2 linked regions of the Homo sapiens genome follow. The protein of the gene in region 1 purifies or fractionates together with the protein of each later gene. This does not show direct contact. Each region holds a gene or a part of one and is shown in the gene's direction. Other genes may lie near its edges.

Region 1 (5,796 bases):
GCCACTGACCTGACAGCAAAACTCTTGCTTCTTGATGAATTGGTGTCCCTAGAAAATGATGTGATTGAGACAAAGAAGAAAAGGAGTTTCTCTGGTTTTGGGTCTCCCCTTGACAGACTCTCAGCTGGCTCTGTAGATCACAAAGGTAAACAGAGGTAAGTGAACTCAGAAAAAGAAAGTTTTTATTTTCTAATTATTTCCTTCTGGATTCTAAATCTGAGAGAATTCCACATGAAAAATACAGTGAAAACCTTGTATATATAAACAGATTTGACGGTATGTTAGCTAATCTGTAGGTTTAATAATACAGTTTTCTAAGTAACTGTTTAGGGAGCAAAATGACTGCCGCAGTGTGCCTTAGCATTTTTGTCATGTTTCCTAAGAAAGATTCTGTCTTATGCAGATATAAAGCAGTTATTATAAGACATTACTGCATTTGGGAGGTGGCGCAAAATGTATGCTCAGTGGCATAAATGTTCTGGTGAACTGAGTTTTCCATTTACTAGAGGTAACAGGAATACCCTTTGGTTTTTACCTGTGATGCAAACCGTTCCACATTGTGTGAATGAATCTGAGTGACAAGTTCTCAGAACGTGGAGTCAGAACGCATGTGTTTCTGTCAAATTTCTGTTTCTTCCTATGTGACTTGTAAAGTATCTTATCCTCTCTGATCCTCAGCTTATTTATGCATAAAGTGAGAATAATTACTTGCTTCCATAAAATTCAAATGAGATAATCAAATGTAAGTGCTTCATAGAATGCTAATTACGGATTTAGAGTAGTGAAATATCCCTTTATGTCAGTAATTTAAAGTAATCATTCCAAACTTAGTTCATTTTCTACCCCTTCAATATCTGTTCTTCATACTGTACATTTCATATTAGAAGTGGCACAAAAGACCACACAAGTACCATAGACAGGAATCTGGGAAATTGACCAAGATTCCTTTAGCTCATCCTGAACATTTCTCACTAAATTCTCTAAATACTGTTTGCTTTACATATTAAATATCTCCAGAATATCACTCTTCATTAAGGCTTTTCTAATTCTGGCCTAAATTATTAAATTTTTTTAACATTTATTCTTTCTCCACTCTTTCCTCATCTCTACCTCCACCACCATCATCACCCCTTTATCACCAACGTATCCTGTACTCGGCTAGCAGGCTAATCATCTAAAACAAAAGTCTGTGTGAAATGTTATCCATTGCTTACAGTACAAAAGTCAAACTCCTTTGCAAGAGCTACAGGGAATTTCATAATCTGGAACCTCATTTCTTCTTGTACTCATTTTCACATCCTTTGCCACCATCTTTCTTAATTCTTAGAGACCTGGGACTTTTCATTCTTGTTCCTGGTTCCCTGGTTTTTTATGCTAAATGATTATCAGGATACTTGTCGCAATTTGCTATACCTCTGTTCTGAAAGATTCTCAAAGCTACACTAGAAAATAAAATCATCATTTGAAGACCATACCTTATACTACATGTATGTGAAAAATAATCCTCTCCTATATTTTGAAATTTAGACCCTACTTTAACTAGAGAAATAGAAATTAGTTCCACTATGTTCTGGGTACTATGTTAGGTTCTGGTGAAAAAGAGGAGAAAAATATAGTTTACATACCTCAAAAAAAATCACATACTAATTGATAACATAGTATTATTTATAACAAATTGTAATACAAGAAATGATGAAGAGAAAAGAGAATGCTAGTACACTGTTAGTGGGAATGTAAATTAGTATAACAACTATAGAGAACAGTTTAGAGGTTCCTCAGAAAACTAAAAATTGAGCTACCGTATGTTCCAGCACCACCACTGCTGGGTAAGTATATCAAAAATAAATATATGTTTAAAAACTAATCTAAAAAGAAGAACATCGGCATCCAAAGAATAGTTGAGCTTTTAGAGAAGAAAATATGGTGCCTTCTAATAAATGTTATTTATTTGGCTCCTGGATATTTCAACATGGTCAACTAAATAATCTATAAATCAATATATAAATGCTGTACATAAATATTTATAAATTTATTATAGCATAAATACTATAGTATACTAAATATACACTGCGTAAATACTATATAATTTACATTGAAACTTCACCACATGATATGGTTTGGCTGTGTCCCCATTGAAATCTCATCTTGAATTGTAGTTCCCATCATCTCCATGTATCATAGGAGGGACCCAGGGGAAGGTAATTGATCATGGGTGTGGTTACCCCCGTGCTGAAGTTCCTGTGATAGTCAGTGAGTTCTCACGAGATCTGATGGCTTTATAAGAGGCGTTCTCCCTTTCGCTCTGCTCTTCTCCTTGCTGCCACCATGTGGAGAAGGACATGTTTATTTCCCCTTCTGCCATGATTGTAAGTTTCCTAAGGTCTCCCCAGCCCTGTGGAACTGTGAGTCAATTAAACCGCTTTCCTTTATAAATTTCCCAGTCTCAGGTATGTCCTTCATACCAACATAAGAACAGGTACCACAGAGAGTGGGGTGCTGCTATAAAGACACCTGAAAATGTGGAAGCAACTTTAGAACTGGGTAACAGGCAGAGGTTGGAACAGTTTGGAGGGCTCAGAAGAAGATAGGATAATATGGGAAAGTTTGGAACTTCCTAGAGACTTGTTGAATGATTTTAGCCAAAATGCTGATAGTGATGTGGTCAATGAAGTCCAGGCTGAGGTGGTCTCAGGTGGAGATGAGGAACTTGTTGGGAAATGAATTAAAGGTCACTCTTGCAATGCAAAGAGATTGATAGCATTTTGCCCCTGCCCTAGAGGTCTGAGGAACTTTGAACTTGAGAGAGATGATTTAGGGTATCTAGTGGAAGAAATTTCTAAATGGCAAAGTGTTCAAGAGGAAGCAGGGCATAAAAGTTTGAAAAATTTGCAGCCTGATGATGCAGTAGAAAAGAAAAACCCATTTTCTGGGGAGAAATTTAATCCAGCAGCAGAAATGTACATGAATAACTAGAAGCAAAATGCTAATCACCAAGCCAATGGGGAAAATATCTCCAGGGCATGTCAGAAGTCTTCACAGCAGCCCCTCCCATCACAGAGCCATAGGCCTAGGAGGGATAAATGGTTTCTTGGGCCAGGTCCAGGAACCTGCACTTGGTAACCTGCTTCCCAGCCACTCCAGCCTTGGCTAAAAAGGGCCAAAGTATAACTGGGGCCATGGTTTCAGAGGGTGCAAGCCCCAAGCCTTGGCGGCTTCCACATGCTGTTTTACCTATGGGTGCACAGAAGGCAAGAATTGAGGTTCGCCAACTTCCACCTAGATTTTAGAGGATGTGTGGAAATACTGGATGCCCAGGCAGATGTTTGCTGCAGGGGCAGAGCCCTCATGAAGAACCACTACTAGGGCAGTGCAGAAGGGAAATTTTGGGTTGGAGCTCCCACATAGAGTCCCCACTGCCTAGTAGTGTTGTGAAAAGAGGGCCACCATCCTGCAGACCCCAGAATGGTAGATCTTTTGCTGTGCACCTGGAAAAGCCACAGACATTCAACACCAGCTCGTGAAAGCAGCCAAGAGGGGATGACCTGGATGTGAGACATGAAGTCAAAGGAGATTAATTTGGAGCTTTAAGAATTTACTGCCCCACTGGATTTCAGACTTGCATGGGGCCTGTAGCCCCTTCATTTTGACCAATGTCTCCTATTTGGAACAGGTGTATTTACCCAATGCCTGTCCCCCCACATTGTATCTAGGAAGTAACTAATTTGCTTTTGATTTTCAGGCTCATAGGCAGAAGAGAACTGCCTTGTCTCAAATGAACTTTGGACTTGGACTTTTAGGTTAATGCTGGAATGAGTTAAGATTTTGTGGGACTGCTGGGAAGGGATGATCATGTTTTGAAATGGGAAGATATGAGATTTGGGAGGGGCCAGGGATGGAATTATATGGTTTGTCTGTGTCCCCATCCAAATGTTGTCTTGAATTTTAGTTCCCATGATCCCCTCGTGTTATGGGAAGGACCAGTGGGAGGTAATTGAATCATGGGGGTGGCTACCCCCATGCTGCTGTTCTCATGAGAGTGAGTGAGTTCTCATGAGATCTGATGATTTTATAAAAGGCTTTCCCTCCCTTTTGCTCTGCACTTCTTGCTGCCACCACGTGAAGAAGGATGTGTTTGCTTCTCCTTCTACCATGATTGTAAGTTTCCTGAGGCTTCCCCAGCCCTGTGGGGAATTAAAATTAAATTAATTTAAATTTAAAATTAAATTAAAATTCTTTCCTTTATGAATTACCCAGTCTCAGGTATGTCCTTCATAGCAGTGTGAGAATGGACTAATAAACCATAATAATTTCTTTAGAAAGTACCATAATGAGAAACTACCTAGGTGATATAATCTATCTAGCTAGCTATCAAATATAGCTCAGCTTGCAAGAAAAAAGGGGAAATTAGCAAGCGTTTAATAGCCATCTGAACAGATTTTCACGTATGAAAGCTACAAATAAGCCATTATAAATATGCAAAAATTTAGGGAATATTCCTTCCATGAGCATATCCTGAGGAAGCTAATACATGAGTTACCTTGGGCAAGCCAAATGGCTGGGGAGATATCACCATTAGAATTAGGTGTGAGCATTAACTTTAAAAGCAAAGTAAAATGATGGTAGCAAGAAAGAGAATGTGTTATAGTACACGGTTTGAAAAAACAGATACAGCACAACCATCAAACTTTCAGGTAAAACGTGATAGTACATAAAATTTGGAATGAGTATTTGATTGCTTCACGGCTATTAACTGAAAATAAAAAATTATTACAACAAATAGATGCTTGGGGACTGAAGAAGAAAGAAAACATTACAAACTGAATTTTATAAATCTTGTACTAAATAACAATAGACAAAAACTGAAAACAGAGAGGTGCAAGATTATTATATAAAAATATTAATACAAAAATAATCATAAGAATAAAAACTAAAATTTCTCTATGAAAAAAAGCACGATAAAATAGAATACAGAGAAATCCTGTATGTAATAAACTCATATGTAAGTTTTAAAATATGATTTAAAAATCTATTATATCAATAAATGTGGATGGCTATAACTTGCCTATTAAAATGCCAGTGTTTTCAGACTTGCTGATAAAGGAAAATAAAATACTTTTCTGTATTTGAGAGATGCAATTAAAAATAACAAGATTTAGGATGGATAATAGTAAAAGAATGAACAAACGATACCAGAAAAAAAAATAACTTAAAAATGAAAAACAGTGCAACATCATTTACCAAAGAGAAACTACAAAGAATGCCAGAAAATAGAAAGAAATGTATTAATAAGGCCGGGCACCATGACTCATGCCTGTAATCCCAGCACTTTGGGATGCTGAGGCGGGCAGATCACCTGAGGTCGGGAGTTGGATGCCAGCCTGACCGACATGGAAAAACCCCGTCTCTACTAAGAATACAAAATTAGCCAACCATGGTGGTGCATGCCTGTAATCCCAGCTACTTGGGAGGCTGAGGCAGGAGAATCACTTGAGAATGGCAGCAGAGGTTGCAGTGAGCCAAGATCTCACCATTGCACTCCAGCCTGGGCAACAAGAGTGAAACTCCATCTCAGAAAAAAAAAAAAAAAAGAAACATATTAATAATAGAAGAGCTTAATTAATTGTTTAAAATCCAAGACCGATTATATATTCAAAATTGATAGAAGATCTACACAACATAACTCATAAAATATACATTATAAATCTGTTTTGAACTTTGGACTACAATAATAGAGAATATAACTTATTTTCCAGTGAATATGGAACATTTATAAAATTTACCATATCTTAGGTGACA
Region 2 (4,908 bases), on another chromosome or scaffold:
TTCACTGAGCTGGTCCTGGTTTTCCTTAATTGACTTAATACATTAAAAAAAGTTACTTTGAGTAAGTTACTTGACCAGTGAAGTGACTGTGACAAGATTATCTTTGTGTTTATTTCTAGAAATGATGTTTCATGTCAGTAATAATATTTGCTTGCAAAGTACTTGTACCTCTAGACATTTCTACCCCATCTTTACTCTCAGGCTCCTGGATTCCTTGTTGCTCAGAGAGGAAATGTACCTGGCCGCTCAACCCCACTTTCTGCACTACACCTTATGGCGGTGGAATCCAAATGGCTCAGGGACACCCTCTGTCGTTAGCCCATGCCTTTGTTACTTCATTTAAGTAATGCTTTCTGAACAGGTCCAAGGGGTCAAAAGAATAGGAACATAAACCAGACATGTTCTTTGCAGTGAAGAGAGGATAAGATTTATATCCACATTGCTATAATACAAGGCGGTGGTTGACGAATTACTAGGAAAAAAGAACAAAGAACATCCCATAGAATTTGGGAAGGCGTCAGGGCAGATGCGGCATTTATTTGGATCTGCTGGATGCGTGAGTTTGGCTTTGTGGAGATCCGGGGCTGCGGTGGGAAAAGCCTCAGCACGCCTTCGGAGGGTGCAGTGCTGCTGTAAGCATGCTGGTGGAGGGAAGGCGGGGTGTGAGGATGTGGGGAGCAAGAACATTTGTTTCAGCTTGATCGGAAGATAGGATTTGTGAGACGCAAGAGTTGCCTTATACCAGAGTTGTATTTTCCAGCGTTGGTAGCAGTGAGCAGGATGGCTGGCAGAGGGAAGAGAGCTGTGAAGAAGGTCATAGTGATGGTTATTGCCATGTGTTAGTCACAGCTCCAGGGCGGGGTGTCACTGAGAAGCAGCTGGAACCCAGATCCCACATGGTTCTCCCGCCACCACCACTGCCCTGAGTACAAAGACTCAAGGAGGGGGTTGCTCCGGCCCGTTCACCCCCTTGTTACTAAATGACCATTTCCCAGACCCCAGTGTGGCCTTTGCATGAGGAGCTGCAGGGACCATGCCACCTGTTCTGAGGACAGGCTTAAGGTCTCCATGCTTAACTCAGACTGAGAGGCTCCTGTGCACCCCCTTTTCCAGCTCCAGTTGTGAAGAAGGACAAACCAGTGAAAAAGAAGGAAGATGTTTGCCCCTGTGTTGACAGCATATACATATACTTCACCACACTGTCCCACGGAAAAACATCCTCCTGGGCTGAAATCCTAAATGCACTACACGCACTTCTGTGCAGCCACAAGTGTCTGAAAAGTCAACCGCAGCCCCCCCCTCCTGCACCGGCTCGCAGTGCCCGTGTCTCTCTAATAGGAGACAGGCTTGGGTGCCCCTCACCCCACTGGTCCTATGTGAGAAGAAAGATTTCCAAGCAACTAAATCTAAAGAGAAGTCAGAAAAACATCCCAAGCTAGGGCCTGTTTCCTAGATTCAGAACTAAAGTCATTTCATTCTGTGCACTGGAAGCTCAACCTCCCTCCTGGCAACAAGGCCCAAGTCATGTTTGCACCTCAACACTGACGTCCAGGAAAGGCTGAGTGGGCATCTTATGCTGTCTCTAGTTGAGGGGGAAGTGGGAGTGCGGGACAGAGGATGAGGGGACGGAAAGCGGAGGGCAGGCAAAGCCTGAGACTGCAGAGGGCCAGTCAGTCAGGTAAACGAGAGCGAGTCAGTCAGGTAAAGGAGAGCGAGTCACCCAGGCTTGAGCGCTGGCTGCACTTGCCCTCTCAATGTCACCTCTTTCATGTCGATCAGACGTCTCAGACTCGACACGTCCTAGATCCACTTGCTCTTTCAGCCTCCCGTCATGGCAACTTGAGCCTTCTGGTTGCTCAGGCCGGAAACCTCCAAGTCATCCTTGATTCCTCAGTGCTTTTCACGCCTCGTGTCCAGTCCTTCAGGAAGTCCCAGAGACTTTACCTTTAAAATACATCTTGAATCAGGCTCTCCGCCTACCTATGCTGCTGCTGCGTGAGTCTAAAGCATCTCTCACCTGGATGACCTTTGCATCTGCCGCCCTGCCTGCCTGCAGCCCGTTCTAAACCTGGGAGCTGGAGTAATCTTTTAACTCATGAGTCAGATACCGTCATTACTCTGCTCAGAACCTGGAAATGACTCCCCATGGCCCTCAGGGTGAAGACCAGAATGCCAGCACTGGTGTTCAAGTTCCCACGCTCTATATCCTCACCATCCCTCCCTCCCCTGCAGCCAGCCTCGCGCTTTGCCATTCCTCATCCCCCCCAGGCACCCTCCTACCCTGTGGCCTTTGCATGCGCTCTTCTCGCTGCTGATCACGGCCCGCTCTTCTGTCACATTCCCTCCAGCTCCTCCCCAAATGTAATAACGAGGTCAAGGTCAGAGGCAGTTGTCTGTTTGGGTTTGGCATCGTGGAGATTATCTATGGTGAAGGGCAGAAATACGGAGCCTTTTATGGAAGTGTGTAGCCTTCTTGGTCTATGATTAACTAGAAGGAAACTGCAGTTGATTTTTCAGACACTTGTGGCTGAGCAGAGGTGTATGTAGTGCATTTAGGATTTTGCCGAGGAGCACGTTTTTCCATGGGACAGTGTGTTGATATCAGGCTGGCTGTGATGGGTTCCCTGAGTCACCCTCTGCGAGGTTTGTAATTCTCAATTCAGTTCAGGTTGCAGGCATTCTTGTTGTTAAAAGAGCAATGCAACTAGTGTCTGAGGAATGTTTGGTGTAATTTATTATATATGCCTTACTGTTTGATAATTTTGAGCCTAATCATGGAGTGATATTTAAGATATTTAAACAAATGTTGCAGCTACATTATTTTTCAGTTGACTTAGCCTTTGGATTTTCATTCTCTTTATTTTCACATTAACTTTGTAAAGATGTTGCTTTGGTTTGGTGGACAGAACATAACACGGGGAGGTGCTGGGGGCAGGGTCATACTTTTCAGCAGGGCAGCTAGGAGGTCAGGCCTCTCTGAGAAGGTGACATTTGAGGAAAGGCCTGGAAGGATACAAGCAGGATGAAGCCCACAAGGTGCTTAAGGAAGGAGACAGTGAGCAGTGTCACAGGCCAGCGAGCACCGTGCTGAGAACTAGAAGCCTTTTCCACTGGCACAGGGTCAGCATTGATATGTTTGTAGCATAGATTGATTTGCTGAGGCTGAAGGATTAGCAGTAAAGGACCTGGGTCCGGTGCCTATTGACCAACAAGTGAAACAACAAGCACTAAAACTTAGAGAAATCGCAGTTAGATTTATTTGGAGCCAAGTTTGAGGACTTACTTAAGCCTGAGAACACAGACTCAGTGTAGACTGAGAATGGGTTCCAAAGTAAGTTATGTGAGGCGCAATATATATACGTTTCATTCCCTTTCCTTTTCTATTTTGTTTTGTTTGAGACAGAGTCTCTCTCTGTTTCCCAGGCTGAGTGCAATGGTGCGATCTCGGCTCACTGCAACCTCTTGCCTCCTGGCTTCAAGCGATTCTCCTGCCTCAGCCTCCTAAGTAGCTGGGACTACGCCACCACGCCTGGCTATTTTTTGTATTTTTAGTAGAGACAGGGTTTCATCATATTGGCCAGGCTGGTCTCAAACCCCTGGCCTCAAGTGATCTAGCCACCTTAGCCTCCCAAAGTGCTGGGGTTACATATATGAGCCACTGTGCCCAGCCTCTTTTTTTTTTTTTTTTTTCTTTTCTTTTAGAGATATGAGGTCTTGCTCTTGCTCTGTCACCCAGGCTGGAGTGCGGTGGTGCAATCATAGCCCACTGCAGCCTCTCAACTCTTGGGCTCAAGTGATTCTCCCACCTCAGCCTCCTGAGTAGCTGAGACTATAGGCATGTACCACTATGCCCAGGGCATTTCCAATGTTTTTTAAACATATGGGGTCTTGCTATGTTGCCCAGGCTGGTCTTGAGCTCCTGGCCTCAGTGATCCTCCCACAACAGCCTCCCAAAGTGCTGGGATTACAGGCATGAGCCACCTTGCTCGGCCTTGTATTTTGTAACAGGGGAATACATGTGGCACAGCGGTGGGCGAAGCAGGCAGTGAAGCAGCGGTTTCAGTCCTGTGATTGTGATTGGTGGTCACAGAGGCTGTGCATAAGATAAATAAGGTAAATATGCAGCTGAGTGGGTAGGAGAAAGGTTAGGCATCTTAGAGTCTGGTGGAGGGTGACTGATTCCATCCCGTCTTTGTTCTGTATCTGGTAAACAGATTTATGACCAATAACCATCAGTGAAATATTTAACAAACTCCAGTAAGATAGGCAAGAGGCCAGCTTTAGTTTATAGGCCCCTCTTTCCTGACACATGTGTCCAACTGCAGCCATTGTGGGCCAGTGTTCCAATTTTCATTTGAACTTTCTTTTTTTCTGACATACTCAAGTGCTTGTTCTGAGGTCGATATGGAGACAGGGTGGCAGGAAGCATCCTTTGTGACCGGAACCCAAGTTGTGGCAGTGGCAGTGATAGAAGTCAGGCCACAGGGCTCCCTGGCCTTAGTCATGGGCAAGACGAGACCAGGCCACCATTCTCTTCCCTGCCCCAGCCCAGTTACATTCCAAGCGCTTTAGAATATTTATCAGCGATGCCCCAGAGTGGACTCAGGAGGATGGCATGTGTTAGCATACTGAGCACAGCTCTGTGGGCCTCTGCATGTGTGGGAAAAGCCTTAGCAAAAACTGCAAATGAGTGTTTCTCATCTTTCTCTTTCAGACAGCCCACCTGAGGATATTGACCATAAGGACTCATATCTCATTACAAGAAGCATCATGGCCGAGCCAGACTACATAGAAGATGACAATCCTGAACTCATTAGGCCTCAGAAACTGATCAATCCTGTAAAAACCTCCCGGAACCATCAAGATCTTCACAGAGAACTTCTTATGAATCAAAAAAGGTAAAATGGT

What was found. The genes of interacting proteins can lie anywhere in the genome.
Region 2: the proteins of OSTN (region 1) and FAM107B purify together in Homo sapiens (affinity purification with mass spectrometry; one large-scale study listed by BioGRID and IntAct). This does not show direct contact.

The regions. Positions count from the first base shown.
Region 1 is NC_000003.12:191,218,807-191,224,602, forward strand, and holds part of OSTN (osteocrin precursor), read left to right. Parts: coding exon 1-155; intron 156-5,796. UniProt on the Homo sapiens protein: Hormone that acts as a regulator of dendritic growth in the developing cerebral cortex in response to sensory experience. Induced in the brain following membrane depolarization and inhibits dendritic branching in neurons of the developing cortex.
Region 2 is NC_000010.11:14,530,322-14,535,229, reverse strand, and holds part of FAM107B (protein FAM107B), read left to right. Parts: exon of another isoform or gene 1-802; intron 803-1,761; exon of another isoform or gene 1,762-1,944; intron 1,945-2,280; exon of another isoform or gene 2,281-2,354; intron 2,355-2,515; exon of another isoform or gene 2,516-2,582; coding exon of another isoform or gene 2,583-2,643; intron 2,644-4,714; coding exon 4,715-4,898; intron 4,899-4,908.